Regions from separate parts of the Homo sapiens genome. Here all the other regions are linked to region 2. The links come from fine-mapping of genetic effects on gene expression. A gene starts in region 2. Each other region holds a variant in brackets. All regions are shown on one strand. Distances are from middle to middle.

Region 1 (2,753 bases), 62 kb after region 2:
GGGACAGACAGGAAGACTACTCTTCTGCACTCTCTATTTTCTTACTATGTATCGCAATTTTATAAAAGAAAAATAGTTGTCATGAAGGAAGAGGTGTTACAATCCTGGGTAAAAGGGCCAGGGCAGGAGCATGGACAAGCCACAGGCTCTGGGCACCTCTGGAATAAAATCTCACTTCAGCTTAAAATACCAAACGTATACTGTGACCAGCAATTTCAATATGGTGACCAACTGACATGCCCTTCGAACGCCAAGAAGACAACAGCCCCAGAAACAGCTTCAGTCAGGAGACCCAGGGTGCTGGCCCGGTTCTGCCGCCGGCCGGCTGTGGAACAGGCTTCTGGAGCCCGAGGGTGACGCCCCAGCCTCTAAGAGCAGGTGCTTGAGAACAACAGGGGCTGCCTCATGGGGTGGCCTGTGGTTCAGTCTCAAAAGCAGCAAAGGAATCAATGAACTGTGAGACGCTGATCGTTACTCACTCCACAGATTACTGTGGTGACACTATGTGCAAAACCAGGAGGCCAGCCATGCTTTTAAAAATACTTAGAAAAAAAAATTACAAGCATGTGAAAATGTACCAAATATTTCTCTTTATTTTATTCATATTTTAAGACGAAGTCTCACTCTGTCGCCCAGGCTGGAAGGCAGCGGTGTGATCTCGGCTCACTGCAACCTCCGCCTCACGGGTTCAGGCAATTCTCCTGCCTCAGCCTCCTGAGTAGCTGAGATTACAGGCACACGCCACGCTTGGCTAACATTTCTCTTTCTAAATGTTTTCATGTTTTCTGTATTTTTCATAATGGGTGTGTTTTACTTTTAAAAAGAGGAGGAAAAGGCTTTGTTTTTAAAATTAAATTAAGAATGATATTAAAAGACCATGTATAAATCAAATCTATGCTGAGAGTTCGGCCGTGTCAGAAAGACGCGTCCATATCACAGGAACAGAGAGGAGCACACGGAGGGGAGAGGAGAGAGGTGAAGGGGCAGAGGGAGTTGCTTTCCTTGCTCAACTTTTCCTTGTATGATTTCGATGCTGTTTATTTAGGAAACGAACGGGAAATGCAGAGTGTTTCCAAGGCATGCATCATGCAGATGCTGCAGAAGTAGCTTCTACCCGCTGCTCACCGCTCCCATCCTCGAGTCCCGCACACTGCCCGGCCGAGCACTCAGCTGTCGGGCTCTGCCAGCCACGCGGACTCTCCACATGCGGATGCCACCACCAACTTGCCCAACAGAGACAGCCACCTGGTCCCTGCACAGACTCAAGGGTGTGTGTGTCTGGGCATCAGAGGGCCATCCAGACCCAGCCAGAG[C/T]GAAACCCCAGAGACACGTCCTTCCAGCGCTTCTGAGGGCCCCTGTGTTCTGGGTGCCGTGTGGGGGAGAGGACAGAGCCAAGAGAGGCCAGGACAGCGTGGCAGGGAGAGGATGCAGGAGGGGATCAACGTGGAGAGGGGCAGGCAGGGGCCAGACTCAGGCTGGAGGGGCCGAGAGCTTCCACAGAGTCTGCTGGCAGCATAGACGGATTGACACGTCAGGAGGAGCCCGGCCCACATGAGCAAAAAGGCAGGCAGGCGGGAGAACAGGTGCAGCCTGGTGAGGGTGACGGGCCTGGGGCAGGCAGAAGGGCCCCACTCAGGGTGTATTTCAAAGGTAGACAAGACAGGGCTTACTGGCTGTGGGGTGCGGCCAGAAAAGAAACCAGAGAAGATGCCGGTGCTGCCGGAGGGAATCCCTGGCTGTGCTCCCAGCTCCCAAAAGACCAACTGACCTCAAGTCTGAATCTGCCGCCCCCTTCCCTCCGTGCTGTTTCTGCAGTGGCGAAGGGCAGCTGGGCCAGGTGAACACACAAAGAGGAAGCCAAACCGTGGTGCAGAGCCAGGCCGGACAGAGGGATGTGGCTCCCTGCCCACCGTGACCACGGCCAGGAGCCCCCAACAGCAGGTCCTGCTGGGACTGCACCAGGCCACGGGGAAGCGCAGCCCTGCCAGCACCAGCCTCCTTGCCTGCCCGCCCAGCATCAGCTCTGCCTGGAAGGAACGCAGACTCGACTCCGGGAAGGAAGGAAGCTCAAATGCTCTGTACTGCAGGACCATGAAGAGAAGCGGGGAAGGGAAAGAGCCACAGAGGAAGCCATGTGTCCATGTGCACTGTGAGCAAGGCCAACACCCACCCGGAAAAACTGCCGCTTAGCCCTGTCTGCAACCCACTATCCCCAAGCTCAGTGGGCACTCCACAGCCCGCCTAGGAATGGGAGAGAGCCCATGATGCGCTCACAGACACCCAGCTATGCACGGGTCAACAAATACGGTCCCATCTGCAAAAAAGAGAGAAAACTGCCATTTACCAAGAACCCACTACACAGAAGCCAGTGACTGTGGAACCACCAACAGACATGACTCTGCCTCCTGCTTCTTAACCCAGGGAAGCTGGTAGCTTCTTCCCACTCTACAGAGAATAAGACCATGAGATGAAGGTTCTGTCTCCCAATCACAGAATTCGCCGTGGCTTCCAACACCATGCTGCCCACAAGCTGCAAAGCACATGCCAAAAGCTCAGTCAACAAGACAGAACTACTGGACAGGGCTCTGAACTCTTTTTGACAATCTTATGAACACTAGGGGTTCTCTCCCCACAACTGTACCACCGTGACGTACAGTCTGCAAGTTCTTCCCTGAATCCCACCAGTGGCCTGCAGGGAAGACCTTCCTGCACTGGAGCCCCACGCCCCGGGAGGAAGCAGAGGAGGGCTGTGT
Region 2 (2,753 bases):
TGATCTAAAAAGCCAGAATACCCCTGGGTTCAAATCCTGGCTCCACGGCCTGCAGTGTGACCTGGGCTAAGTTGCTTAAGTTTTCACAATTAAATTTAAAATGCATGGCCGGGCACAGTGGCTCACACCTGTAATCCCAGCACTTTGGGAAGCCCAGGCAGGCGGATCACTTGAGGTCAGGAGTTCGAGACCAGCCGGACCAACATGGTGAAACCCCATCTCTACTACAAAAAAAAAAAAAAAAATTAGCTGGGCATGGTGGCACGCACCTGTAATCCCAGCTACTCAGGAGGCTGAGGCTGCAGTAAGCCAAGATCGTGTCATTGCACTCCAGCCTGGGCAACATGACAGAAACTCTGTCTTTAAAAAAAAAAAATATTAAAATGCACATGGTGACCTATCTCATTGACGCTAAGGCGTACTCTCACTTTATCATCTCTAATGTGAGGCTGCGCCTTAAAATCAGCAGTATGTCGGAATGCAGTGGGCAGAGGGCCTTCTTTTTAGTAATCCATAAAGTAATGGCATAGCTAACACTAATCAATCGTGTCTTAGGTTTGATGAAATACGGACGTATCTACCTCAAAACAATGGTTGAGGCTCAGAACAGAACCTGACACAGAATACGCCCTCAGGTATCGGTGTTGGCTGCTTGTGACTGACTTTGGCAAGTAAGATCAGTACCCGGCACCTCTGGGCACACAGGGCCCGGGCTGCATCCACTGTGCCAGGGACCTGGTGCCGGGCTGGGCAGCAAGTCAGTATCACATCAGCAGGCGTGGGCCGTGGTGAGCCTCTCCCTGCCCTCCCGCTGGAATAGAAAGCTGATCCCGACGTCCCACTCCGACCCACGGTCAGGAAGCCGTCCTGTCCAGGAAGGTGGCTGAGGTACATCCCTGAACACAGTAGGCCACAGCATCATGCAGCGGAGGGCCAGTGGCCGCTATTCTTCCTGCTGGTGTTCCACTCGGCCCGCAGCTCACAGCAAGTCTATGCGGAACTGTGCAACCCACATGCTTTGATTTTCAGAAATGTTCTTAGATCCTGAACCAGAATGTGCTGCAGGGGGGACTGTTTCACCTCAAAAATTACAGCAAAGTAAATGTCCTTGTTTCAACTTTTCCAATGTTTAACTTGTAACAATAGCTACAAAAGTAATCAGGCAGCAATGTGTTTCTTTAAACGGCTTTCCTGTGAGTGTTCCGTTTACAAAGAAAATCCTAAAACCAGGAAGTAATTGGTGACTTTGGAAACAGCAAGCAAACTTCGGTGAAGAAAGAGGGGCAGGTGTACCTGGAAGGACTAACTTGCAGCCACTCATTTCCTTTGGAGGGCGGTGGGGCCTGCACCCTGCAGATTAGGGTATATTCTGACTCAGCAAAATAGGCACCAGCGCCTGTAAAAAGAAACCGCGCTGGGCACTAAGAGAATTCTCAAAAACTCCCAGAGCCCTGGGTGTGTGTCCTCCCACAGGGAATCTCGCACGAGTTCGTCAAATGGCTGGTCTCAGGTTACACAACCAGCACTGCCTCCACCGCCACCGCCCCCCAACCTCACTGGTCCGAGCGGTTCCCCGCGGTCTAGCCGCGAGGGCGGGGCCGGGGGGCGGAGGCCAGGGCGGGACCAAGGCTGGGGGCGGGGCCAGGCATGGCTGCCGCTCGCCGGCCGGGGGCGGGGCCGACGGTCACGTGTGTACACAGGGCCCGGGCGGCGTGCGCGCCGTGAGCCCCGCCGCCTCCGCCAGCCCGAGCTGCCCGCCCGGCGGCGACTGCGCCGGCCGCCGCCCAGCAAGCCGGTGAGTGGGGCCCGGGAGCCTGGGTCGGGTCGGTGGGGCACACCCCAGTCTCCGCCTGGGGAGGGAGCCAGCCCCAAGCTGCTGTGGCTCCCACGGCGGGCGCTGCGCTTACTGGGACCCGGGTCCTCTGGCCGCTGCCCACTGCGGGGCTCCGTGCCCTTGCCAGGAGGGGACCGCTGTCCTCCGGCCGCGCTCCGAGCTGAGCCCCGGGGGCGGGCTTTCGGTCATTAACCTGGTGATGGCAGCTGAATCTGCTGCTGGCGTAGGCGGCACAGCGCCGCCACCGGCTCTCCCATGTCCGACAGGGCACCACTGATCCTGCTCTCCTGGGCCACTATGGTGACTGCTTTCGGCCCCTTCTGTGATTAGTATTTTAAAGTGAGTTTTGGATCTGTGTCTACATGGAGGTGTCGGATCTGCTGTCAGTTGTCTTGGACAGTTGGCAGGGCATGGGACGGCTCTTTCAAAGCTTCACTGGAAGGCAGTGCTCTCCAGCCGCCAAACCACCACTACCAGCAGCAGAAAACCCACTATTAAGTTAGTATTACAAACCTGGCAAGTCAGTTCTCTAAATTAGGCATAAGTCTATGAATCTTGATGTGACTGGTCACAGTGGCTTATCTCTGCATGCATGCTACGTGGTGGACCAGAGGATAATTCTGTATTCGTCGTCCACAGCCTTTGATCTCTTCCCTGCCCATGAAGATGTACTTGAGTCCTCCATTCCACTTTAAATAGCCAGCTCCTGTCCACACGGAACAGCACGACATCTTTTATCTTTTGCTACCTGCAGCACCTAGCAGAGGCCAGCATTCAATAACAGAGGGCCAAGAGGCTTGCTTTAAAGGCCTCTGCAAACTTGTATGAGTAAAATGGTTCTGACCATGTTCCCAGGCTCCTCACGCATAGTGGTGATGAGATAGTCTACCGTCCTAACTGGGGCACCGTTGAGAGTGAA
Region 3 (2,753 bases), 35 kb after region 2:
AGAACAACTGAAGGAAGCGCGGGACAGACACAAGGGCGGGCCTCGGTGCCACGGCTGGCCTTGGGCAGAGGGAAATGCTTTGTGTACTTTCTCTGGGAAGCAGCAGCCCCAGCGCGGCCTCGGCGTCCTCTGCCGCCAACTGCTCCGTGACCGCTGGGCGTGTGTGCGGGGACATGGGAGCAACTTCACAGTGGTGGGAAGTTTCTCTCCTAAAACGAAAGCTTCTCTATACTACAGATTGGCCCCATTAAATAAAAGAAAATACGGTGTATTTTTACAGCGTTTGGGATTGGAAATGACTGAGATTCACGGTGGCTCTAGTCCTGTCTCCTGAAGACGGAGCTGGACGAGGTCTGCGGACAGTCAGAAAACACGTCAGGGTTTTGGCTCAGCTGCCAGATATGCAGCTATGGTGGGATTTCTGCGGCAGGGCAAGGAAGTGGAGACAGTTCGCGTGGCAGAGCACAGCGGGTGCCCTATAGTGGGCACGCCTGGAGAGCGTATATTTTCACAGGGCCCGAAACCTGAATGGAGGATTCTTTCCACCAGCTGCGGGGTGGGGGGGGGCTCAGGCACATCAGTTTTCCCACCCAGAAGACGAAGGCCTGCGAAGGGGGCCCCATGAGGCCTGGGAAGGGGGCCCCGTGAGACCTGGGGTTAAATCTTCCACAGCAAGCAGGGACCCCAGCCAGGCTCTGCACAAGGCAGGCGCTGCGCTCAGGTGGGAGTCCTGTGAGATGCTCCTGCACCCCACACTCCCGTGACCACAGGCGAGGCCTAACGCCCCCCACGCCGGTTCATCTCGTCTCCTCAAACTCCCACCAAGATGCTCACGACAGGGCCCAAATGCACTCCCGGGGGGTTGGCTAGTCTGCAGGATCACAGGCTGGCCCAGTGAAAACCTGGGCTTCGCTGCCTTACAACCATGCAGAACTCATAGCCAGGCCATGTGCCCACCTGCCCACTGGGACCCCGGGACAGTGCCTGCTCCAGACAGAGGCTGGGAGCTCTGTGAGGGGCACATGGAGTGAAGCAGAGCCTGCGGCTCACCTGTTTGGCTCTGGCTGGCCAGGTGCCCCCTCAAGCCCCAGCTCAGCCTTCCCCCAAACACTCAGCTCCATCCCCCACCCCAGCGGGTCAGGGCTCC[A/G]TCAAGACTGCTGGTGAATGGCCGGCTGAGGAGGCAGCGAGGCAGCGGGTCAGGGCTCTGTCAAGACTGCTGGTGAATGGCCGGCTGAGGAGGCAGCGAGGCAGCGGGTCAGGGCTCTGTCAAGACTGCTGGTGAATGGCCGGCTGAGGAGGCAGCGAGGCCTTTGGAGAGGGAGGGCCAGGGTCACAAGACCAGCAGGGCACAAAGGTGGCTACGGGAGGAGCAGGAAGTCAACAGCCGCAAACAAACCTCCCAAGCCACTCGAAGCTGACATCCGCAGGCCACAGGGACACACCTGAGGCTGCGGAGGGGCGGCCACAGACCTTCACAGCCATCCTGGGTCCCCAGGCAGGCAACGCCCGGCTGCTCGTCTGCTGTCCACCTCCCTATGGGGACACCTCAAATCACACGAGAATTGTGACCTCAAAAGCTTATGCTGCTTTTGCACAGAAACAGTGACGTGTGAACCATCCTGGGATGGTATGAAAGACAAGCGCAGGTCTGGAAAAGCAGTTCAGAAGCCACTCAACTGTCTACGCTGGGGAGACGGTTTCGTGAGCTACCACCACAGCCTATAACTACTTATCCATTAAAAATGATAATAAAACCCAGGAAGAGGCCGGGAAAACATTCAATAAACCAGCGTGCTGAGGGAATCTGCACAACCCCCCTCCCTGCCCAATGTAGACGTGTGACGGGAAGTGGCAGGGGCAGCAGCTCCTCTGAGGGGCCCCGTGGCAGGCAGGCCCTGGCGGGGGCTGGGAGGGCTCAGGGGCAGGGGTGACTCCCAGATGCCCTCCAGAGGGTCCAGGGCCCTGCAGGAGCCACCAGCCCTCACCACTGGAGTCCCCGGCCTCCCAGCTCTGGGGAAGCAGCCCTGGAGAAGTGGCGCCCATGCTTTCTAGAACCTCTCTGAAGGGTTGTTTAAGCAGCGAGGGCCCATGCTGCCGTCAAGAACACACAATTCTCAAGGTCCCGGCTTTGGGGAGTTCCCCCAGGCCCCGAACCTGACCTTGGCAGCCCCTCTGCGTGGCTCAGGAACGAGTCCCACAAGCCCCTGGCTCTTGGCCGGAAACCGGCCACCAAAACAGACTGTGAAGGGCCAACCCCTCCTCCCAGGGAATTCCAGGGCTCAGTAGGACCCTTTGCTTTCCCTGGGGTTAGAAGGACAGGTGCTGGCAGAAACGCAAAACAGAGTGGCCACTTTGGCAGCTTTGTATGAAGCTAAATGTGCACACACTGTAAGAACCAGCGATGCCCAATCCTAGCGATCCACCCAAAATAAAATTACGCTCACATGAAACCCTGTATGTGAACATTTAAAGCAGCTTTATAATAGACACAATCTGGAAAGAACTCAAATGTCGCTCCCACGATGGCGGGACACAGACCGCGGCACAGCCCCCCGTGCTCAGTGGCGAGCAGCCACGGCCACCTGGTGTGCACGACGTGACACACCATCTCAAGCGCAGGAGGCACGGGGACAGCCAGGCTCGGAGGCTGCACACGCACAGGTGCCACCCGCGTGACGGTCCGGGGAGTCTGATCACGGGAGCAGAGTGCAGCCGCACGGCCGCCAGGTTGGGTGGAGGGAGGGGCTGACCAC

What was found. PIP is the estimated chance that this variant, and not a neighbour inherited with it, causes the effect.
Region 1: its variant is the best candidate, but not a certain one, in a credible set for the expression of GPR146 in whole blood (TOPMed, PIP 0.56).
Region 3: its variant is the best candidate, but not a certain one, in a credible set for the expression of GPR146 in whole blood (TOPMed, PIP 0.90).

The regions. Positions count from the first base shown.
Region 1 is chr7:1,105,024-1,107,776 of GRCh38, forward strand. All of the region lies in intron 2 of CHLSN (cholesin), which reads right to left. Among named protein-coding and RNA genes, the nearest start is that of GPER1, 18 kb to the left of the region's middle. The variant C/T (reference allele first, on the strand shown) is at 1,314.
Region 2 is chr7:1,042,864-1,045,616 of GRCh38, forward strand. GPR146 (G protein-coupled receptor 146) reads left to right here and starts at 1,683. Exons shown (of 2, transcript NM_001303473.2): 1 at 1,683-1,795. All of the region lies in intron 2 of CHLSN (cholesin), which reads right to left. RefSeq lists an enhancer at 802-1,357 and silencers at 1,463-1,952, 2,133-2,182.
Region 3 is chr7:1,077,792-1,080,544 of GRCh38, forward strand. The region is part of intron 2 of CHLSN (cholesin); the gene reads right to left. CHLSN-AS1 (CHLSN antisense RNA 1) reads left to right here. Exons shown (of 3, transcript NR_187853.1): 3 at 1-271. Among named protein-coding and RNA genes, the nearest start is that of GPER1, 8.9 kb to the right of the region's middle. The variant A/G (reference allele first, on the strand shown) is at 1,148.